Linked DNA regions of Homo sapiens: all the other regions are linked to region 1. The links come from fine-mapping of genetic effects on gene expression. A gene starts in region 1. Each other region holds a variant in brackets. All regions are shown on one strand. Distances are from middle to middle.

Region 1 (8,185 bases):
CCTGTGCCTCGCTGTGGCTCTCCGTCATGCTCTTCCGGTACTATTTGGTCTCAATTGCTGTGGCCACCAGTGGGACTTTGCTTCTGCTCTTCACTCCCTCCCATGTCTTGTATCTTAACACAAGTTCAGACCACTCGACTGGGGTGCACCTTCATGCCAGATTCTTTCCTCAAGCTGCCTTGTGTGTGATAGGACCATTTTCATCAACTTACTTCTCTCAATTGGTCCCAGCATCTTTCCAACACCCCCATAGTGGGCCTTACTCAAAAGGATCACATTCCAGCTGGTGGAGTCTCCACAGAGTTCTCCCATTGGATGCTACATGAAGATGCTTCATAACTGTGAGGTGAGAGACAGGGAGATGGCAGCACTACCATTAATGAAGTGACTTATAGTGATGTATACCCACGCCAGGGCCATTGGGCATCTTAACCCTGGCCTAGTTTCAGACACATAGGCAATAAGAACCATCAAGCTAGCCTCTGCCAATCCAAGTGCACAGTCTCAGACAAAGTACAGAATCTAAGCTGACCTCATCTGGCATGTACAGGGGGAATTTTGTGCATGAGTGGATATAAAACCAGGTCCTGTTTTCCCATCACCACTTAGGTTGGTCCCCACTCTGCTGCTGCTGCAGAAGGCCCAGAGGTGACATCAGTCCTTTTTCCTCAAATGGCCAGAAGGCTGTTGGCCTGGGCAACAGGAAGCATGCACTTCGTGGAGAGAATTTAATTTATGCCTAAATGTTAAGTCAACAGCAACATTACGGACAGACATTTTTACTTAAATAACCAATGGCAATGTAACCTCTGCATAAAAATAGAGTGGGCCCTGGAAGGAACAGCTCCCTTGTGTAGCTGTTCACTGTCTACAGAAGGCCATGTTCATATTCTTTTTTTTTTTTTTTTCTTGAGACAGAGTCTTGCTCTGTCGCCCAAGCTGGAGTGCAGTGGCATGATCGTGGCTCACTACAACCTCCGCCTCCCGGATTCAAGCAATTATCCTGCCTCAGCCTCCCAAGTAGCTGGGATTACAGGTGCCCGCCACCATGCCCAGCTAATTTTTTGTATTTTTAGCAGTGACTCTACTTGCATGTGTGGGGACCTTTATCTATCGGGGACCTTTATCTATCAGGGACCGGAGGCTACTCATGGAAAGCAAATACTTTGGGCACAGCAAACAGACCACATTCAGTCCATAACCCAGGCTGGTCTGGTTAGCATATAGTAAGTTTGGTAATGAATTGTAAAGAAAGCACTCACCACTTTCTGATGTTCAGAAAGCTGAACATCAAACAAACACAAATCAGTTCACCATGGGCTATATAGTTTCAGGATTCTCCTGAAACTGGGGAACCAGCATTTCAGTGTTCAAATAAGGTACAAAATGTGCTCAAGTAGACTGGCCTGGTCATTGGGAAGCCATGTAACTCTTTCAAGAAAGCCCTGTAACCTGGGGCTGGAGGTCCAGAAAGTCTGGACCTGTCCTCCAGTGATGACAATTCAGTTAAAAAGGCAAAATATTTGAGTAACTGCGTGAAGGCAGTGAAAGGCTGTCATGATTCTAAAATTGAAAATGATAAAGGATCACAGGAAGAAGTGTGTGCTCTTGGCTCCACCTCAAGTCAAGACTGTTTGTTCTGCATTTTCCTTTTTCTTCCAACCCCTATTCCTGCCAGGATCAATAGGTCAGATTCAGGAAGTTCTGTGACTTTTCTTCATCACTGCATGAAAATCTGTCAGACTCATGGTAGTGGACTCAGGTGAGTCTGCCATCCAGCAAGACCCTCTTCAGCTCTGAGATGGAAGTACAGTGGAGAGTCCCTCCCCTCGCTCTCAGAGACTTTCACTTTCACTCCAGCTCACAAGATTCTGGGGAAACTGGAAGCATAGCTCATCAAAAAAAGCTAGGGCCCCTTTCCTGGGTCACATTCTGGGTCAGTGTCTTGCTATTTCACCAAGGGCCCATTCTAGTGTCCTTCCTAAGCTATGGCCTGGCTCCCTGAGGACAGATCTCAATAAAAGCCTCCAAAAAATTGAGCTACAGAGTGAATCATGAGTTAATATTTGGGTTCTAGTCCCAAATGACCTTATATTCCACCCTTTTGGTGATCATCTACTCCAGGAGTTCTCAATTAGAGAAGATATTACCCTCACCCCCATCCCCAAGGAACACTTGGCTATATGTAAAGACAGTTTTATTTGTCACAACTGGTAGTGGTAGGGGGGTGTTACCATCACCTAGAAGGTAGAGGCCAAGGATTCTGCTAAACATCCTATAATTCACAGGACAGGCCCCACAACAAAAAACTATCCAACCCCAAATGTCAATGGTATCTAGGTTGAGAAAACGTTAAAACCACAGATTGTCAGCTTTCCTGACATAACTCCCAGTTCCACAGGTCTTCCCAATAGAGGTAAGTTTCTTTGATATATTGGTAAGCCAGTTCCTACAGTTACACCTGGACACAGGATGCTGGAGAGGGGACTGGAAGTCCTGTGACTGAGTCAAGGGCTCTCCCCCATCAGAGGACTCAGATTATGATCTGAATTCTAGTTCATGTGACACTTATAAATGCATCCTACTGTAGTCCAGTCCTTCAGGGTGACAAACTTATAGATAGCATGGATAATGACAAGGGCTCCTCTGTATTTCATTATGTCCTTATTATTATTTTTTCATTAAGTAATACTAAATAACATCATCTGCTTGTTTTTGTTGGCTGAAGCATTCATTCAGCCAACAAATATTTATTGTGTGCCCAGTTAAGAACAAGCACTGTGCCCTATACTAAATGGGTGAAAACTGTCTGCTGGGGCTAGTGAACATAGACCACAGTACCTACAGCAGGAATTCTTCCTCAGGTGAGGATGAAAGTGGGGGGTGCTTGTCAAAATGCAGGATCCTGGGCCTTCCTCCAGAGATTCTGATTTTGTAAGGATGGTGCCCAGAAATCTGCATTTTTAGCCAGCACTTGATGTGAGTCTGATATAGGTTATCTATGGGACCATGCTTTAAGAAACATTGGTAAAAATCATGAAATTCACTCAATCAAATCCCAGACCTGAGTATATGCAGTCTTGAGCTCTAGTGTGGTAATTTCCTATATCTGTGAAAAAAATCATTTAACTATTAATTGTCTCAACTTTCTTGTTTTTTAAACCAAAGGAGAGTAAGACCCTAATAACCTGTGTTCAAACATAGGTGGAGAGAAGGCAGAATGACCTTATTTATGTAGAAGCAGGACACTTTCAAAGGAACAGAACCATATAATTTGTATGACATAGATTGAGCATTAGCCAAGTACATTTGTATCAATGATAGTTAGGAGGAAAATCTCTTGCTTTTGTAAGAGGTATGAACATTACCTTTTCTCTGAACTGACCTCAGCATACAATCATTCACAGCTTGATTAGGGAACGCTAATCTCCCCTAGTTATCAAGATAAATGGCTTCTCTGATTACTCTGTTTTCTTTCAAACCCTTTCTCAGACCTACATCATTAATGCTCCGCTTGTGACTTTTCAATGGAGCACTTATTTTAGTAGCACACTTAACCCCATTAGAGGTTCAAATCTAAACCTTTTTCCAAGCAAAATTCCTCCAAGCTGTTAGAAACACCTTAATACTTATCTATATCTAATATCAAGGAAGTTATCTCATGTATGGGTGAGATACATAAATGTAGGCAATAGTTTTCAGCCCGATTGCTCTGATGTGAATTACTGTGACCAATTTAGCAATAGAAGAAATCTATGTAAAGAACTTCATAACGAATATATAGATTAAACTTAATGTATCACTATCATCATTAGAAGGACAGGGTATGGATTAAAGGCCAGACTATCTCAGAAAATATGCCAGTCTCCCTTAAAATAATAAAAAATACATCTCTTTTCCAACTCATCTAAGAATTCCCTCCCATTCTGTTCCTTTAATTATATTTTTATTAAGTAAGGTCTTTATTATACTTTAGTACGTTTTTATGTTCCTGTCTTGTTTTTGTTGTCTACCTTTTGCTACTACCTTTTAATACACCTTGACTCCTGGGCTCACAAAACAGAACACCCATTGAATTTACTTACAGATTGAGCACTTCAAAAGACTCTAGTCTTTGTGCTCCTGTTCAGAACCATTCAAAATATGGATGAGTTTCCAAACAGGAAGGAAATGGAATATGCTAAAAACTCACAGTTTTGTGTGTAGTCTGTAGCCTTAAATCATCCGAAGTACCCCAGATCCTGCACACCAAGGAGTGCCATCCCACTGTTTTGTCCAAATGAAAGAGAACCCCCTCCCAGCATTTTAGAACTTGGACCTGGCATGCCAACTTAAATGCAAATGGTCCCTCAAACTCAGATTTGCTGCGAGATCCATTTTTAAGTAGACTATGCTCCCTGCAGACCAACATGCAAATGGTGCTCGAGTATACGTAAGAATCACAGAGGCAACGAAAAGACACCAACCATACCTATTTTCGCAGCCTCCACTTTCAGGTTGAAATCCCAGTTCCTTGGCAATTTTAGGGACATTTTGCTTCCAGTTTAAGTGAGTAGTTAGTGAAGCGGTGAGTCTGTCACAGTTTGCGCCCTTCTTGTCTTTTCACTCTTTCCCTCTGTTTTTGTGTCTGTTTTTGTTCCTCCTTATGATTGCTTCACAAGCAATCTTAGGCTTGAGGCTGATTTGCCAACGTGTCTCCTCCTTTCTCTTAGATGAAAGGTCCATCCATCTGTCACTGGAGGATGGCACCCAAACTCCCCCAGCCTCCACCCTCAGTCCCACAGGGGCTAGCACCCTGCTTTTCTTGCTTTCAGTTTTACCAGAAATATCCCAGTTGACACTTCCCTCTGCGTCATGGGAAGCAAAGCTCCTTTTCGAAAGAATCTCAGGCCTTACTGAGTTGAGGTCGTGATAAACAACTGCTGCCTCTTGGTTTTGTGTGTGTGTGTGTGTGTTTCTTTTTTAACTGTCTGCTTCCTTGCATTTGAGGAAGTGGGTGGCTGTTCAGTGAAGATGATACATTATGAGCACTCTTTCTTGAGAAAATGGTTTTTGGAAATGCTTGAAAAACCAGAATGGTTGCTTCTGTTATAAAAGATTACAGTTTTAATTAGAAGAAAATGTCGAAACTCCCATCATCTACTTCAACTCTAAGCTCTCCTCTTCCTCACCTAACGGATCAAGCATCCAAAAATGGTCAGAAAAACAACAAGCATTCCCCCAAAGTTATCTTCTTTTAAATTCTTCCTGCTGTAAGGACCATGTCGCAAGCTCTCCAGGTGCTCAGGATAAAGTTTGCAAGTGATCTCAGCCTGATGTAGGGAGGGTTTTGATGTATTTGGCTTAATGAAGCAACTTAAGCTAGGTCGACCCACTCACATATCCTAAGGGTTCTTTGGCATTGTACACAGGGTGTGGGCTTTAGAATCAGGGTGTGTGGGCTGTATACATGGTGTGGGCTTCCATTTGCTAGCTCTTCAACTTTTGAACAAGCAACTGAATCTTTCCAGACCTTAATGTCCTCATCAGTAAAATGGGGTTGATAATAACCACAACTCAAAGGGTTTTTGCAGAGGAATCTAGTGCAGAGCTTGACACAGAGTGGTTGCACCACACACATTAATTCAACCTTTATTCTATTCTATTTAGTTCAGTTCTGTGACAAGCTTTCATGTTTAACTGGGTCAGCCTAACCTAGTGCTTAAGCATTTGGGCCCTGGAAACAGATCACTGGTAGTCAAATCCTGGCTTTCCTGCTGTGGGACTATGGACAAGTTTCTTGACCACTTTGTGCTTCAATTCTTATCTGTAGATGGGGCAAATAATAGGGCTTACTTCATAGGCTGTTGTGAGGCTTTAGTAGAAAAGCCAGTACAAAGTGCTCAGAACAGTCACTGCTAGCCAGCATCTAAGCTGCACGCCTTGCTCCATTCATTCTCCAACTCTCCTAGATGACTCTGTCATACTTTCTTCTTCACCTGCCACTTGCTTACTCTTACTGACGACCTGGGTTCCCGTTTCATTGAGAAAATCAATGTAACTGAAAGAGAATGTCCACAAGCTTCCCTCACTCTATCTGCTCACCTACCTGCATGCAAGCTGTATCCCTGACCTTATTCTTGGTACAATGGGTGAACTGGCTGTTAACACTCTCCCATCCCTATTGCATCATCAATTTCTTCTCTCTCTTTGATCCTTCCTGTCAGCGTTCAAACTTACTATTTTTTATCCCATAAAAAATCTCTCTGGATGCCACCACCCCCTTGGGCTAGAGTCCCATTTCTCTCCTTCATTTCTGAACCAAGCTTTAGTAAGAATTGTCTAACTTGCAAATATCTCTCCTCTTATTCTCTCCCGAATCCCTTGGTTGATGTTTTTGCCCCTATGACTCCACAAAATATATTCTCATCAAGGATACCTACGACTTCCCTGTCACTAAACTCACAGGTCAGGGCTTCATCTTCATCTCACGGGCCCATCAGCAGTGTCGGACACATTTGATAGCTCTCTCCAACTCTGAGCCCTCTGTCCATGGGGCTCCCACGGCCCATGGTTGGCCTGGCTGTCTGCCTGCCTTTCTGGCTTTTCCGTGTCTGTTTTCTTGCTGATTCCTTCTCATCTCTCTGACCTCTAAATATTGAAGGAAACCAAGACTCGACTGGACTCTTTTTCCATCCACACTCACACCTTGGTGAGCTCATCTGTCTCAAGGCTTTAAATGTCACATATTTGCAGATGATTCCAATGTGTATTTCCAGCCCAGACCCCCTGAACTCCAAATCACATGGATCTCTGCTTAGATCTATAGTAGCCATCTCAAACTAAATGTATCCAAACTGTATATCCAGAGAACGAGGCTGAAGGAACAGTGGTGACCTGGTGTATACTCCTGTCTTCAGGAATGAAAGGAGCACAAGAGAGAAGAACCTTGCAAGCGCATTTAACGCCTCTGCGCACACCCTGTCTGCTCACATTCCATTGGCCAACACAGGTCACATGGCCAAGCTCAAAGTCAGTGAGGCCGGAAGTACACCCAGTCCTCAGCAGCAGTGGGGAGGGAGAAGGGCCGGAGGGGTGGAAGAAGGGCCGGAGTGTTTGCTGATCAAGACTCCAATCCACCACACTCACCCAGTCTACCCAGCTACCCTCCAGCCTCCCCAGGGAGCTGGATTCCGCTGAACTTGACTCAGCTACTTGGAGACATTGCACTACTGCCTGCCTGACCCAAACACCACTGCTCTTTTTCGTATCCCAACTTAATTAAGCGGGTGTGAGAGAGGTAGCTGTCTGGCCCGGCCCAGCAGCATCTCCACGGGGGAATTCGACACCATCTAAAATTTCAGTCCTGGGACCTTTAAACTGAGGAATGTTGAAAATATTTTGAAGGTGTCATTAAGAAACACGCAGGGAACTTCCTTTACTTTTCAGGGTAGGTTCCTGTCAGTCTTGGAAAAACTCGTGACCCATGGGGGAAGTTAGTTGTGCAGATGCGGAAAGGCAATCAGATGGAAAGCACACTCCCCACAAGGGCCCAACACAGCAGCCTTCCCCCACCACAGAGCTCTCTCTCGGTCAGTCAACTGGGTACTGCGCTCCCTCTCTCTGATCTTCATAAAATGAAGAGCCAAATGCCTTGCCTGGTCCCAAAGTTTGAATTAGCATCTGCAGTAGCGCAAGCAAACATTGTTCCATCTGTTGGCTTGTTGAATGATAAGCGGATTTATTAAGGACCAAATTTTTGCTGGACATTGGAAGAACGTTCGTGAACAAGCAGACGTGTTTTCTGCTTCCCCACCTCACCGCCCTGACACCGGCTGTTGTCTCTTACAGTCTGTTGGGGGAGAAGAACAATTAAGTGAACGATTAAATACAGTGTGAGAGAGCTATGTTGGGGAAAGTGTAGGGAGCTAGGGGGGGTGTATATGCGAGGGGCCTAACTGGACTTGGGGAGTGAAGGAAGGGTTCCTGGAAGAAGTGTCTTTTAAAGTAAGGCTTGACAAATGAGTTAGGGAGGCAAGGGGGTTGGAAAAAGGATTCCAGACAAAACCAACAATATGAATGAGGCACGGAGAGAAGAAAGTTCTTCAGGTCGCTCCTAAGAAGGATGAAAGGGGTGGGGCTGAGGAGAAACGAAGCTGGAGAGATAGTCAGGGCTGAGCAGGGCTGGATCACACAGGGCAGGTAA
Region 2 (8,185 bases), 81 kb before region 1:
CTAAGATCAAGTGAGACCTAAACATAAAATCAGACAATCAGGTTCGAGCCCTCCCTTTAACCTTTGCAGCCAATTGCTTGCTTCAGAAACCCCACCCGGAGTTAGAGGTACCTGGGTTCTGAAGGGAGGACTGGATCTGAGTCCTCCTCTATAACAAGCTAGTGCTACTACATTGGGCCAGCTGCTCAACCTCTCTGAGTTTCTGCTCCTCAATAACACAATACGAATGATAAATTCTGCCCTACAATGTTATGTAATATGAGGACTCTAGAGGTGATCAGTGTAAATTTCCCAGCATAGTGCCTGCCCACAGAAATCAGTAAATGGCAGAAACCTATTAAATGAGTAAAATAATAGCTATTCTCAAGGACTGTGGGATGATCTTGTTACATGAAGTATGAGCATTTTTAAATTTTATTTTAGTTTTAGAGTGTTAGTAGAATGCATTGCCTTCAGAAAGACCTATCCTAAGAAAAACTACAACCACTACCCACTACCTGCCTTTTAAAAACAATCTTCAGGGCTAACAGTACTGTAGGTAACTTGAATCATCTGGTCAACTAGAAATTTGAAATCCATTTTTTGGCCACACATAAAGATCAAGCTACTATATAAAGTTCACATGTTCTTTGTAAAAATATTTGTTCCTATAAATATATAAAAATATTTGACCTTTGTAAATTATTGTCCTCACGAGGTCTACATTTCAGAGTCAGCAGAGCTTTTGGACATTGGGAACGTGAGTTTCAACCCTTCAGCACAAATGTGGGGGCTGACATGGCTGAGACGGCTTATCGAGGAATGAGAAATATTACACAAACACATCACATACTCTGAGAAAGGAATCACGTTTCATGGGTTAGCAGGAAACCAGTTTTCTCTGGACGTTCACCCAGAATTTTCAACAATTCTGACCAAAACATTTACAATGTTGTATACATTTTTCCCACTGAACTTCTCTGGACTGTATTTGAGTCTCTCTTTCAGAGTGGGCTTCAGTGAGGACCTCATTGCTCAGTCACTGGGTGATTGGCACACTTGTCACTCACCCCCCTCAAAGATGCCAATAGAAACTAGATTTGGAAAGAGGCCAGGCTTTCAAGGTGTGTTCAGATGAGTCTGTAGCAGCAGCGCCCACTGCCACTGCATCACCTAAAACTCCCCAAATTGCCACCCGAGAGCAGGCCTTACATGGGATGGCCTGGACTAAAGGAAGAACCCAATGGAAGCAGGAAGGTTCTCTGCACCTTACCATGCTACTGAAGCTGTCTGTCCTAGAAATTCGGAGGTCTTCAGTGGCATCCCAGCCTACAGAGCTTCGGGCCACTGGAGCTTTCTTGGGGTCATTTTTCTGGGCAGGGGGTGACAGGGGTATATCCTTGGACTTGGGGAAGAGGACTTCATGGTCTCTGATCATCATAGTCATCACTCTTTGGATCTGAGGAGTCCCTGAAAGACAGAAGAAAAAGATCTGTTGTGTAGTGTAGGAGGCAGGTAGTCAGTCCTCAAGGATCCCCACCCGTGGATGTCTCCAAACTCGGTTCTAAAACTATAGGGCCCAGAAGGGCCTCATTTTGCTTCTCAAAAGACCCTTTTTAATTGCTTGGAGTTGGAGATTATGTTGAAAGGGATGGAACAGAAGGACACGGGAGTAGAATAAAAGAGGGAGCTGTTTCAGAGGGAGCCAATAGTCCACTGGATTAGTTTTTGATCAGGAAAGTAGGCAATAAAACAGCAGAGAAAATGAAGATATCTTTCTCTCCTGATGTGGTCCTCAATATGATATCTGGTTTCTTATCAGACACAGAGCAAATATGTGCCAGGCTTTCTGCCCCCATGCCCATGGCAGATATCAGTACTCTGTGTCAGGACACAGCCTCAGAAGCCTGCACAGCACAGCTTTTTAAGCAGCCTTTTTGTGGGCTGGCTTGTAAAATGAAAGCTGGCTGGGCACAGCGGCTCACGCCTGTAATCCCAGCACTTTGGGAGGCCGAGGTGGGAAGATCACTTGAGGTCAGGAGTTCGAGACCAGCCTGGCCAACATGGTAAAACCCTGTCTCTACTAAAATTACAAAAATTATCTGGGTGTGGGGGTTTATGCCTGTAGTCCCAGCTACTTGGGAGGCTGAGGCAGGAGAATCACTTGAACCCTGGAGGCAGAGATTACAGTGAGCTAAGTTTGCACCACTGCACTCCAGCCTAGGCAACAGAGTGAGGCTCCAACTCAATAAATACCTAAATAAAAATAAAATAAAATAAAATGAAACCTGCTTGCTCAATCTGGCTAAGGGTATTTAAAAGTAATAAAAGACTGACAAACACTAGCTAGCTATTATTGTACTAGTCTACTGCACTGTGGGACCATTGGGCAAACCCTTGACCTCTGTCCTTTGTTGTGATCTGAAAAATGGACACAATTCCTGCCCTGCCTACCTCACAAGGCTATTGCATGATTCAGATGAGATTGATAACCAGCTTAAAATGCTTGGGAAACTACAGAGCAGTGCACAAATATCAGGGGGAATGTTGTAATTGTTATTTCCTGGGTACCTGCTTTCACTACGGGACCAGCCATACCTCTCATGATCACGGCAGGGTCTTCGACCTTCGACCTGATGAGATTCACACCAATCACAGTAGCCAGGTTGTCCACACTCATCTTGTTAACAGCACAGTTCAGCTGTATTTCATGTAGGAACCTACAGACAGCCAAGAAATCCCATGGTAGAAAGCAGGAAGTAGCCAGGAGGAAGCACTACAGGGTTCCAATGAGAACTCAGGGATGGATCCAATGCTTTCCTCCCAGACTCAGGAATGAGACCAGCCTGCTCTGCCCACAAGAATTTAGCCTCATCCTGAAAGACCCAAGACCAAGGAAGGAAGAGAAATCAGGAGGGTCCTGCCCAGCTGCTGGGGTGGGGGATGGGGAGGTGAATGGAATCACATAAGCAGGAGGCAAGATCCACTTCCAGGAGCTCAGACTGGACTAGAAAAGGTAAAATGGGTATCTGCCCATACCCATGTCTGCCTTGATAGGCTTATCTCCCAGCTCTCAGCACTCATCCCACCCAAGTCTCCAGAGAGGAAAACTTTATTGGTAAGAAGATCTCAGGCCTGGGGAATCCATGGTGCCTCCTTGCTCTCATCCTCTGATTAGAGCACAAGCATTGCTAATTCTCAGCAGGTTCTCCATAACTAATACTGAATTTTTGTTAAAATTCTACCCCTTTGAGGCACAAAGCTCTCAGATTCACTGTAAAAACAGGGAATTTCTAAATACTCTCTCAAAGAACCATTTAAAAATGGATAGAATGAAGCAACACAATTTCAAATACAGAGCAATTATTAAATATTGGTGACGTGTCCAAATGATGAAACATTATGAAATATTATGAAGTTATTTATAATCCAATTTTATGACATAGGGAAATGCTCATAATAAAACATTAAACCAAAAAAAAGGACACAATCCTTTATATAATTTTGATTTAGTATAAAATATTATTCCCCTATATTTACATTAAGGTATGTAAAGATTTATCACAGAGAGAAAACACCCAGAAGGAAAAATGCCAAAGTGTTAATAGTGCTTGTTGCTGGTGAAGGGATTGTGGGTCCTTTTTATTTCTCATTTACTGTTTGCTATATCTTCCTGGTTTCCAAGTCAAGCAAGCATGACTTTTATAATCTAGGAACTACAACAAATTATTTTTAAAAAATAAAAGACAAAATTCAGGTCAGTCTGGGATGAAGATCCCAGTTCCCAGCCGAGCCAGATCTGGGTCAATCCACAGCTAGAGTTGCCACAGGGGTGGCGCACAGCAGGTCCCCAGAAAGGGCTGAAGGAAAATAACCAGGGTGGCCCAGAATGAATGTCTCCCTGGAGCTAAGCTACGGCTCAGAATCACAAAGATGGGAGATCATTCTAGAAACATTATAAGGATTCTGGGTTCTCTTGCATGTACCAGGACTCTGGGCAGTGCTGAGGCAGGCCTAAATGGGGGAGCACGTTCATTTTTTGGTTCAACCAGGTTTTCAGAATCCTTGAAATTATACAGGAAGCTACTTCAGTGCTATGTGAATACAGCTGATCTTCCAAAGTGCTAGACCAGAATCTCTCTGTTCACAGACGTGGTCCCTCCTCTTCTAACTAGGAGCTTCTTTCTGATGGGGTTGAAAACTGCAGAGTTGATACCAGGGGCCTCTCACCTGCAGATGTAGCTCAGGAGACTATAGTTGTCACGAGGAAGGATGGAGAGCTGCTTCATCAACTCCTGCTGAGCCTGGGAAGAGATTTACACAAGTAAATCATTTACCAGTAAATGAGCCTGCCCATGTGCCAGCAAGGAGACCCTGGGACAGAATTGGTGTATCTGTGCAGAAACAACACTTTGGCAGTCATTCCTGTTCCTGTAGTTCTGTGGGTTTAAAAAAAAAA[AG/G]GGAAATAACTCAATTCTCACAGAATTTTTTTTAAAAGGGTCATAGTTTTTGTTATGTATACTTTTATTTATATGTAATTATGCCACTGCACCCCACCCTTGACCCTGAGCTACTCTAAGGAAGGACTGTTTAACAACTCATACGTTAATTGTTTGCTGAATGAATGCTTGAGAGGTAACAATCCAATAAAGAATAAGACCACAATAAGATATCTCAGAATCACTTTAAGACTGGTGAGAAAAGGAGGATTCTTCTGAGAAGGATTTCAAGCACTGTGGCCTATCTGAGACATGCCGGGACACAGAGACAGGCAGACCACGCTGGAGGACGGTGCAAGGTCAGACTGTTCAAGCTCTGCAATGGATGGCCGTGGATGTCAGGCAAGGTCTACTAGGAATGCATGTGCTGGAGAGAAGAGGGACAGCGAGCTTTTCCGTGTTCTTTTCAACCACAGCTGCCTGTAGGGTCTGTAATCACCATCTGCAACATGGTGCTTGTGAGAGTACACAATTCACTAGCCGGGCGTGGTGGCGGACGGCTGTAACCCCAGCTACTCGGGAGGCTGAGGCAGAAGAATCGCTTGAAACCGGAAGGCGGAGATTGCAGTGAGCTGAGATCGCGCCACTGCACTCCAGCCTGGGCGAAAGAGCCAAACTCCATCTCAAAAAAAAAAAAAAAAAAAAAAAAAGAGAGTACACAATTCACATGCCGGTGTGCAGGCACTCCTCAAACCTGAGCAGCTCTCCTGCAGAAAACGCACCCTCCAGCCTTGTCAGCCTACACGCAGCAGCTTCCGTAGATATAGACCTTCTTAGCGTAGCATCAGCTTCATGCTGAGATCCCTTCTTCAGTTGAGTCGAGTAAATTCATTGCAAAGGTTGCTACAGACTCACCCCTCCTAGCTGCCACCTCTGCCATGTTTTCACCAGTGAGAAGGACCTTGGTCCCTGTGTGTAGACATGCATTGCCACAGATGTGGAAACTCTCAAAGATGCTGAGATTAAGAAAGCTGGGAGAAGCAAGTCTAAAGTGAGTGCAGGGGTGGGAATCTTATTGTCAGAACAGCATCTAGCTGCCTCCTTTACTTTCCCCAGAACCCAGGGGTGAGATGCGATCTGAAACGTTTATCTTTTTAGCTGCCTTTTAAACCTTATTCCATAAAATTTTATTACTTTCACAATGGTGAGCAGATATACCAGTATAAGTTAAGACTTTTCATATCCCTTTCTCCCTCCCCCAATAAAATTCTTAAGTTACGCACAAAATATCGTACCTCAGATCCATGCAATCTAATTTTTGTTTGGAAAAGAGCTACAAAACCTGTATCATGTTCTCTTCCTTTCTTAATTTTGAAATATAAAGTCAGCTTTTCTCTTATGTCAGGATCTATTCAAATCATGATGCTCTCCCCACCCTTAGTCAGGGATGGAAGTTCTCACAGCTGTGTTTTCTTGCAGGGCTAGGGTGCTATTTCTTCATTCGTTTTAAATAAATATATTCTATGAAGCAGACTATCTAATAAATTTTGAAGTGTGGAAGATAATAAACCTTCCCTTATATTGAAAAAAATTTTAAAGTCACCCACCAGTATCATATCCCTGGGTCCTCAAAACAATCCTAGGCATGGCTGATATTACTATGAAAATTATCTAAGTTTGTGGTGTCTAATATAGCAGTTACTTGCCACATGTAACTACTTAAATTTAACTAAATCAAAATTAAATAAAATTAGGAATTTGGCTTCCCAGGTGCACTAGCCACATTTTAGATGCCCAATAGCCATGTGTGGCTGGTGGTCACCATATTGAACGGTGCAGATATATAAAAGTTCCATTACCATAGAAAGTTCTATTGGTCTAAGTAAATAAACTGAGTCTTATAAAAGATGCATAATTTGTCTAATGGCAAAATCAAGGTTAAATCTAGGTCTCATTATAGATTTTTCTGTGCACCATTTTGCCAGAGAGGGCTTTTAACATAGTCGATATAAACATCAACTTCTTCATGGATCACTTGGATTTGAAAATCTTGTTTAAAAATCATCAAGGTTTATTGTTGTTGGTTGGGTTTCATCAGTTTCTTTGGTTGTTTGGTTGGTTGGTTGATTATAATAACATGACTACAGTGTGGTCATTGTTGACTATAAGGCCTCTCTAGAAATAAATTTATACAGGATCAAAAATCTTGTTAGTGAACTTGTGCACTCTCACAAGCATATTGCAGATGGTGGTTACAGACCCTACAGGCAGCTGTGGCTGAAAAGAAAAACAATCAAAAAACCCTCCCTGTCCTTCTTCTCCCTGGCACATGCATTCCTTGGATGACCACGCCTGACACTCACAGCTGCTGTAGAGCTTGAGCTATGTGACCTCACACCTGCCTTCCAGCCTGTCCTTGTGTCCCAGCAAGTCTCAGCAAGGCCATCATGCTTGAAACCGTCCTCCGATGTATCCTCCTTTTCTCACTACTTTTAATGTGATCTAGCAGTATTTGATTATGGTCCAATTCTTTATTGGATTATTGCATCTCATGAAGGCTGTGGTTTGCCAGTCATTATGATTGAGTTCATATACCTTTTGTTGCTGAGGAAGTTGCATTTGACTATCTTACCAAAAAGTACAGGCCCCTTGACCCACTGTTGCCTACTGGATTAGTGTCCAGAAAACCAATCACTTTCTTCTAAGGCAGGACAACTAACTCTAAGATGCAAACCTTTGCCTCATCCGCATTCGTGAGCTGCCCACAGAGCAGGAACCCTTCGTACTGGCTCCAGGGAACCACGGGCTCTGGGAGGTCTCGGAGGTAGAGCTTTAACAGGGAAGCCACAGTGTGCACATCTGTGTCTCTGGAAGAAAATAAGCAACGCTCTGTGAAACTCTTTGAAAGAAAAACTTTAGGATGTTCCTCTCTTCCATTCTGATGATTCAGTGAATAGAACCATAAATTACAAAGGGAAATTTTGCAGAGGAGTAGTCTGATAAAGAAGAATCAGACCAAAACATTTTTGTTAATTCGCCCTTCTGGAACAACATTCTTGAATAAATGTTCCTCTGTCTCTTCCACCCAACTACCTCAAAGGTAAGTTCAAGGTCTACATTTTTACTAAACGTTCCTTAATGATTTTCGTCTTTATTGCTTTCTTCTTTCTTCAAGTCATTTAGTGCCTCACAATTAGCATTGTCTAATTAGTCTCTAATATTGCTTGTGTTAACTCCTTTATATCCTTGGTCCATTCTTCTCTTTAATCTTCCAGAGTGCTTAAAATAGTTCTGAGGTTCACTCACGTATTTACTCAATAATTCACTCAATCAATAAGCATCAAGAAAACCTATTAGGTGCAAGATACTGCAAGATACTTGTCAAGCACTGGGATTTCAGTAGCCAATCCAAGGGACATCAGTAGCCATCCAATCCAGGGATGGAGCCCTGGCCCCATCGAGCCACAGAACTCTGGGGACTCAAGTATTAAAATGTCCTTACAATACTGTGCGGCTAATGCCATGATATGGGAAGCCCAGGACCCAGGATCCTATGGAAGTATGGAAAAAGAACACCCAAGGCAGAGATGGGAACACATAGGTGACTTGTCAGATGAAAGAGTACCTCAGATGAACTCTGAAAGGCGGTGAGGAGTTAGGGCATGAGGCAGGCAGCATGTGTGTCAGCCTGGAGCATGAGGAGAGGACGCCTCCCCGTGGGCCTGATTGACTGAAAGAGGCACGGCTGTTCAGTTCAGCTTCTCCAT
Region 3 (8,185 bases), 30 kb before region 1:
CTCTACCATTCCTCTGGCTAACACTGACACACATGCCCAAACCTGCTTTACCTCCGCTGGTCTCTCTGATGTACTTGAGTGACATTCTCCCAGCCAACCAATCAACACAGAAGGCTGCCTGTTCCTTATATTCAGCACTGACAGCATTGCTTATGACGTGAGCCTTCTCAAACAGAATTCTGATCATGTTACCTTCCTGCCTAAAAGCCTCTGATGACCCCCAGCATCTCCCTCCTAAACGATGAAGTCTAAACTGCCATGGAGTTGGAGTCCTTTGCGGCTTTTTCTGCTGCATTTCCTGCTCTTTCTCCATGCCCATCCTGCTCTTTATCCAGGACAGTATGCTATTCTCTCTGCTGGAATGTCCTCCCTACCCACCCCCACCTACATCCAATTTGACCTCTTGGAAAACTCTTACTTATCCTTCAAGAATCCCTTCAGGCCCCACTTCCTGTGAGAAGCCTTCCTGGCCCTGCCAGACTTAGTTGCTCCCTGGCTCTGGACCCTTGTCAGTGGAGACACCTGTGTATCGTAGCCTTTGTCGCCTTGCTTGGTACTTTTTTCTTTTCCTGTCTTCCCTCTCCACTTGCACTCTAAGAAGACAGGGGTACTCCCTTGATGTTTGGCCTTGCTCATCCTTGTATCGTGCACCTAACACAGTGCCTAACAGAGAGAAGGAAGGAGAAAGTAGCAGAAGTGCACAGGCTTCTACATACGCAGCCTTGGGTAAGCCGTATTCTATCTCTGAGGGCCAGTTTCCTCCTCTGTAAAGCTGTGATAATAACATGCATCTTATGGGGTGATAAATCCATAGGGATTAGTAAGGGTAAGTGGACAGGTCCCAGCCAGTGCCTGCTTCTTAAAACATAGAAATTAAATGAAAGCTATTATTATTAACATTATTATTATAGTATGGACTCAATTTTATTCTAAATGAGAGAAAAGAAAGAGAATATTACAGAGGGGAGGGATGAAAAGAGGGAGAGAGATGGTATAGAGGGAGATTGGCTGGACATTGCACAATATTCCAGGTGCAAAGCCAGAAGCCTGGATTAGGATGGAAGAGGAAACAATATGAGAGGCTAATACTGAGAGGACTCAGCCCCCTGCTGAACAAGGAGGAGCAGGAGACAAAGATTTTTGTGAGGTCTGGGGTTTGAGTGGCTCTGGTAAGGTAGCCTTCCCCATTCATTCATTCATTCATTCAAGATTGAGGACTTGACATGCACCAGAACAATTTTGGGTCCTGAGGATATGAGATCAGCCAGACACAGCCCTGATGGATCTGGGAGACCCATTCATGGAAGCAAGAAAGGAAATCAGAGAACAAGGCCAGTTTGAACAGGCAGGTGAGTCCAGTTCTGGACATGATAAAGTGTGAGGGTGGACTGAGAGCTTCAAGCTTCCCGAGAGTTTTGCTTTTGATAAGTAAGGCTTATGAATTAAGAAAGAGACTAGGGGGAGAAAAGAGGTGCAAGTGAAAGCCAGAAGATTTGAGTGACGTGAAAATCTCAGACCAGAAAAGTTATTTGCATAGACGTTCAGGAACCAAAGAAAAGATGGCATAGAGGAAACCAGCACAGAGGGAAGCATTTCTAACTTGAGGCTGTGGGGATAAACTGAGATGCAAGACAGAAAAGGGTGCTGTTTTCCTTGGGATTTTTAGTAAAGCTCCACACTTCCTAGAAAAGCATCTGGCAATTGAAGCATCTTGATAAATATTTGCTGAGTTAATAAAATAAATGTTTTAGAACGAAATGTGAGCCACCATGCAGGCATTTTGTATTTGCGAGAAATATTGGCCAATTTACCTATTGGCGGGATTTCTGGATATGTTCACTGCATCCACTTGAGCAGAGTGGACGATGGAAGATATAATCCCTGATCTAACAATAATGAATATCAAGTTACTTATGTATTGAGTACTTACCACGAGCCAGCCACAGTGCAAGCACTTTATAGAGCTGTGTCATTTAATGCTCATGCTCTTTATGTAAGTACCATACTGTCACCCTCATTTTTCAGACCAGGAACCAAAGCTCACAGAGGTGAAATGATCTGCTCCAGTTAACAACTAGAAATCTGATTTCAAAGCCCAATATCCATACCTAAGCCACAGCCCAGAAAGGAGCATGTATTCTTGTGGTGAAGAGAGGCATCCACATTGGAGATGGAATCCATGTCTAGTAATTCACAGGGTTAAAGAATCCAGAGTGAAGTGGACAGGAGAGACCATGCCACCTTTCACTGAGCTGGGAACAAAGCCACTACTCCTAACCTATCATGTGAAGCAGCTGCCTCAGCCCCACCCATTTTGCCTCTAGATTGTGCACAAACAATTTTGTGCTATTTCCGCCAGTGTATGCTCTGCAAGGCTCAGCAGGCCTCGAAAACACAGTGACAGAGAAATGGTACTGAAACCTCAAGCCCACCACTGAGGCTGTGCTGATACCCCAACAAGAAAACGGACATATTAGGTAATCCTGCCACGTCTTACCAGCTGCTACCCAAGCTCATGTGGAGAGACCTAGGGATTCTGAGCAAGGTCCCACGTGGCCGAGGCATGGGAGGGAGAGAGAGTGAGCTAAGCTACCGTGGGCCGGCAGTCAGGCCCACACCACAGCTGAGGAAGGAGCCGACTGGGGAGCTCTCTGAAACAGCAGACCTGGCATTGCTACCACCTGAAAATGATAAACAGATTCATACGTCCCTGCCCACACCCCGCACACATACACACACGCAACGCCCCTGCCACATTCACACATACATACATGCAGACCCCCCACCTATCCTGTTATCAGACTGCGGGATGATGGCCCTCAGTTTCCACCCAGAAGGAAATTAGGACATGTGACTTCAGAAACTTCAGGCTCGCTTTCTGTATCCCTTTTCTGTCTTCAAAGCAAACGCCACCCCCCCATTGAAAAGCACCCATCATTCTTTTGAGTTTCGTTTTTAACTTTAGTATGAAAAGCACTGCCCCTTCAAAAGGCATCTTTACTGTGAGACTGATGACAGCAAAGGAGCCTTCTCTCTGTACCCTGAAATTAAACCACACGGGTCTTCCCAGGGCACTCACCCTTGAGACAAATTTGTATAACCGAATTCATAGAAATATCTAAAAGTTGTTCCCTAAATGCCTGCCTCAATACTCCGGAATTGGGCAGATTTCATTTTCCCATGTTCTATGGATTCTAGAAATGCCCTTTATTGTTTGACAAGTGACTATGTCAACCTAAAGGAAAAGAATCTGCTTTGGAAAGGGGCTTGGCACCAATAACTATGTGTTCTGCAGGAAGAGGTAAAAAATGCTGTCTTGGTAGCAATATGAGACAGAGGGAGAGAAATTATCTGTGTGTGTGAGAGAGAGAAAAAGAGAGAGGGAGAGAGAATGACAGAGAGTGAGAACAAGAGAGAGGGAGAGAGAATGACAGAGAGTGAGAACAAGAGAGAGAGAGAGAGAGAAGGGGAGAGAGAGAGGAGTACTGGCTTTCTGTTACTTCTTTCTTATCAGCAGCTCTGGAAACCTGAGCCAGCAACAAATATTGCAAGGTTTTTTTGCACGCCAGCAAATTTGTTTCACCTAGGGTGCCTCTCCAGGGCCACCCCTCCAGTGTTCATGTTTTGTGGCTTTCGTGTTTCTTAGGAATTTAGAGTGCAGTTGCCTCTTGTGGGTCTGTGTGTCTCCATCAGTTGCAACACCTTACCCAGCCCTCTCCGCCTGTCTCTGCATAACAGGAAGCCACGTGTAATAACAAGAAGCTTGCGGAAGAACACTGCCCCAGAGCTGCCTCTTCCTCAGCACAAGGCAAAGTGGAGAT[T/C]TGGCAATCAGAGGGCAAATTTTCTCTGTAGAAAATTCTTTGACAATGTAGCTGGTTAACTGCATATGCAAGCTACCTGCTTTCCCAGGCGTTAGTGTAAGGAAGAACAATTCTCATCAGGTAGGACTGCAGGATAATTAGTGCAGTAAGCTCTGCCCAACACCCTAGTGGTGTGTTACATTAGGAAGAGCAATCGAAGTACTGACCCCTCCATTGCCAAAGCTAGTCATTTATTTTAGGTAAGAGGTTTTGGTTCACTAGTCACTAGCATTCATAAATAAATAAGTGCATTAGGATGCTTGAAATATTTGTATTGCATAAGCATGGATGAATTATATGGCCTGAGTAATTCACAGGAAGGACCCTTCCAGGGCAATGCTCAAGTACTGGCAACTACCATCAAGCACTGGCCCTTGAGGAGGCTACAAGCCATTACAGCCTAACAGACGTCACTCCAGTCAGTTTCTGGGGCCTCTACAGGTCTTAGGGAACAGTGATTTTAAACTTTAACACTACTGAGAGTTAAAGTGACCAATGAATAATGCTAGCAGTGGGGTGGGCCCAGGAAACGAGTCATAATATGTTTCTCCTATTCTACAACCTGATAAAAAGATTTCATTAAAAACTGAGACAATTTGATCATGGATAAAGGATAGATGATACCAATGAATTATTGATTAGTTTTGTTAGGCGTGATCAGGACAATGTGGCTAGAAAATAAAATTTCCATATTTTTAAGGATGCATACTTAAGCATGGGGAAAATGTGTCTGGGATTTGTTTTAAAATATCTTAGCATAAAAGGGAATAAAAGAAAAAGAAAGGGATAGATAAAACAATGTGACGAAATATTCTGTTGAACTTCAGTAGTGGGTCTACATGGGGGTTCATTATATTTTCTCTGTTGTGTTTGGAATGTTGATATAATAAATGATCTTTTTAAATATTTTATTAGGCTTAAAAATAAATTCAATAGGCTTGTTGGGTTTTTTTTTTTTTACATGTCAACTATTGCTCTAAACTTCAACTTGTCTATTTTCCAAGGTCTGCATTTCAGACCTGTTACTCCTCAGAGCACAGCGGAATGACACTACACAGATGTTATACCACTTACGTACACATTCCCTCCCAGACAGATCCGCCTCCATATCCCTGCACTGTCACTTTATCAGCTGATGAATGGGAAGAACTGAGGGACTTACTGAGGCTGCCAGTATGGATAGTATTTCCTGTAAAGTCAGCTTTTACCCCAACACTTACTGGCAGAGAGAGAGAAAGGGCAGCAGAAACCGGAGGGAGCCCAAGGGTGGTCTGTGAGGGAACTCAGGAAGGAATGACCACCTAGAATTCTAGGTGACCTCATGGCAAGAGCTTCCATTTCCAAATTTCCATTAAAATGACAAAGGGACTAGCTCAATAATAACAAGGGGAGATCTAAAATGAAAGTAAAAGTAAAGAAGGATTCTATCTGCATGCCATTTGGGGGGAAGACGGATTTCTGCAAGATGTAGGATAGGCAAGGCTAAACTGAAGAAAGCTGTTGGTCTCACAACTCAATGCATATGGAACAGCCTGCCCCAGAGGGAGCGGAAAGGGCCCAAGAAAATCCTGCACTAACAACACCTAGAGAGGAACAGCAGCAGCATGGAGGCAGGGAACAGATGGAGACCTGAGAGCTCCTTCCAAGTGCGCACAGAGGTCTGGCTGGGGCATGTTATTTCCAGTTTACCCTGGGTGCCCAAAGTCAGGCCAGACAAAAAGTAACAGCTCTGTCCTGCTGGCTCCTCAACCAGGTCACGATACCAGTGAGAACAGAGGGTGCCTGTCCACCTAACCTGGAGCTACACAAGAAGAAAAACAAGAAGAAAATGAACTTTCCTTCAACAGAGAGGGTAGCTACCCTCCCTTAACCCCTTAACTGGATGCGTCTTAAAAAGTTACACATAAGCTTGCCATAGCACCCAGCAATTCCACTCCTGGGAATCTATTCAGGGGATGTGAAGGCACACGTCCATAACAGTTTTTGAATGTGAATGTTTCTAGCAGTATTATAGATGATGGTCAAAACTGAAAACAATCCAGAAGCCACAAACAGGTTACTGGATAAACAAAATGTGGGAAAGCCAAACAGCGCAATACTACTTGGCAACACCAAGGAGCAAAGGACTGATTCATGCCACACAAAGAACCTCAAAAACATTCAGCTAAGTGAAAGAACCTGAATGCAAAAGACAACAAATTATATGAGTCTGTGCATAAGAAATATCCAGAAAAGGCAATTCTGTAGAGACAGTGGTTGCCAGGACTGAGGGTGAGAGCAGGGATTGATTGCAAAACGGCTGGAGAGAACTTTTTGGGGTAATAAAAATGTCCTAAAACTGGACTATGGTAATCATCACACAACCCTATAAATTTACTAAAAATCATTGAATTGTATACTTACAATGAAGGAATTTTATGGCATATAAATTATACCTCAGTAAAGTTTTTAAAAGAAAGATTAGAAACTAAATAATATATATAACTGCCATACACACAAAAAACCCACCATGGAAACAGTGAAGAGTAGAACAGTTTCTGCAGAAAAAATGAGAATAATTTTCTACACTTTTTATGTGGTGAAACATGCCAGAAACTCTGCAGAGTTAGAGATTTTTGACTGTTTTGTCACTCAAATGTCTGGAATATTCCAGGAATGCAAGAATACTTCAATATTTAAAAAACTAGTAAATGGTTTAGCCCATCAATAATTTAAAAAGTCTTATGTTTTCAAAGATTATGAACTTGCTTTTGATAAATTCAACATTAGTTTATATTAAATGTTAGTTATAAAGAACAGAAGATCACATTCTTAGGTGTTAAAGTGTATCTCAAACCGAAAAAAGGGGAGGGAAGAATTGAAGGAACGCTCTGTATTGCTGAAAATGCAACTACAGAAAATTGGAAGAATTAAACATTTTTAGGATTCAGGCCAAATATTTGCTTGGTGTTTTAACTGTATATGGAAAAATGATGAAGTACAGCAGAGAATCTTCAAAGAAACAGAAAATGACACAGCAGAATACTTCTGATACTTCTACTGTGTCATATAATTGAGAGCTGTGAAGTTTATGAAAATTTTCACTGCTGTGACACTTTGCAATTTTGTTAAAGATTTTTTAGAGTTTGATAAAGAAAGCATTCTAAAATTCATGAAAGATGATCAAATACAAAAAAGCCAACATCATTGTCTTGGTTACAGCTAGTGACTTGTGAAAAAGTATCGAGATTTTACTTTTTCATAAAATTTTATTATTTATCAGCATTTCTATCAACTTTGGGCTACACTTCATGATGCTTGAGTAAGGCTTTGCAGAATGCAGTATTTTCCCTGTGATTCAGCCACTGACATCTGGTAGTTCTGTTTCCTCTTCAAAGCTGTCAAACATTATCAGCTGCCTGAAAAATGTGTTAGGGGGTTTCCCTTTTATCACCCAAGGTCCTCACAAAAATGTCAGGACTTATTTTGTATGTATCTGTGAGCAACTGTAGTGTTTCTGTCTGACCTGGACTTTCTTGGCCCACACACTAGCCTCTGCTTGACATTTCTTTTTGGCTGGCCACTCCTTCACAGTTCTCATGGAAGAACTAGAAGAACACCATTTTTGTTTCTTTTTTCTTTTTCTGTTTGTTTTTAGCCAGTAGTCACTGAAGGACCAACTAAGCTTTTGTGCAAAGGCTGAAGAAGCAGGAACCAGAGATGCACAAACAGGAGGTAAAAGAAGGAGAACCATGAGGGGGTGACTCAACAGGCTAACACCGGGACCCCAGGATGCGGTCCTAATTCCAAATCCCTCTGGCTTAGCACATCTAATAGCATACGAGAGCTTTTGAAGATGAAAAATGAGTTGTAATATTTGACTTGGGCTATTTTTCTCAAATTATAACTTGCGTGATTTATTTTTTCCCAATTATTTTTATTCCAGTAAAACACACATAAAATTTACTATCTTATTTTTGATTGTACAGTTCAGTAGTATTAAGTACATTCACATTATTGCACAACCATCACCATCCATTTTCAGAACTCTTTTCATCTTGAAAAACTGAAATTCTGTACCCATTACAGAGTTAACTTCCTTTTCCTTCTTTCCCTAGCCCTGGTAACCACCATTCTACTTTCTGTCTCTATGAATTTGTCTCCTCTAAGCACCTCACATAAGTGGAATTATACAGCATTTGTCTTTTTTGAAGCAGCTTATTTCACTTAGCATAATGTCCTCAAGATTCATCGGTGCTATAGCATATTGCAGAATGTCCTTCCTTTTTAAGGCTGAATACATTCTATTGAATGTATATACCACATTTTGTTTGTCAGTTCATTTG

Evidence for each region. PIP is the estimated chance that this variant, and not a neighbour inherited with it, causes the effect.
Region 2: its variant is fine-mapped to the expression of ARHGAP25 in whole blood (TOPMed, PIP 0.94).
Region 3: its variant is fine-mapped to the expression of ARHGAP25 in whole blood (TOPMed, PIP above 0.99).

The regions. Positions count from the first base shown.
Region 1 is chr2:68,731,547-68,739,731 of GRCh38, reverse strand. It overlaps ARHGAP25 (Rho GTPase activating protein 25), which reads right to left and starts at 4,921. Exons shown (of 11, transcript NM_001007231.3): 1 at 4,472-4,921. The coding sequence starts at 4,532. RefSeq lists an enhancer at 1-156.
Region 2 is chr2:68,812,387-68,820,571 of GRCh38, reverse strand. It overlaps ARHGAP25 (Rho GTPase activating protein 25), which reads right to left. Exons shown (of 11, transcript NM_001007231.3): 6 at 7,153-7,285; 7 at 4,210-4,283; 8 at 2,578-2,699; 9 at 1,253-1,449. Among named protein-coding and RNA genes, the nearest start is that of LINC01888, 16 kb to the left of the region's middle. RefSeq lists an enhancer at 4,535-5,035. The variant AG/G (reference allele first, on the strand shown) is at 4,439.
Region 3 is chr2:68,761,995-68,770,179 of GRCh38, reverse strand. All of the region lies in intron 1 of ARHGAP25 (Rho GTPase activating protein 25), which reads right to left. It overlaps LOC105374790 (a long non-coding RNA gene), which reads left to right and starts at 7,510. Exons shown (of 3, transcript XR_940225.3): 1 at 7,510-7,574. The variant T/C (reference allele first, on the strand shown) is at 3,822.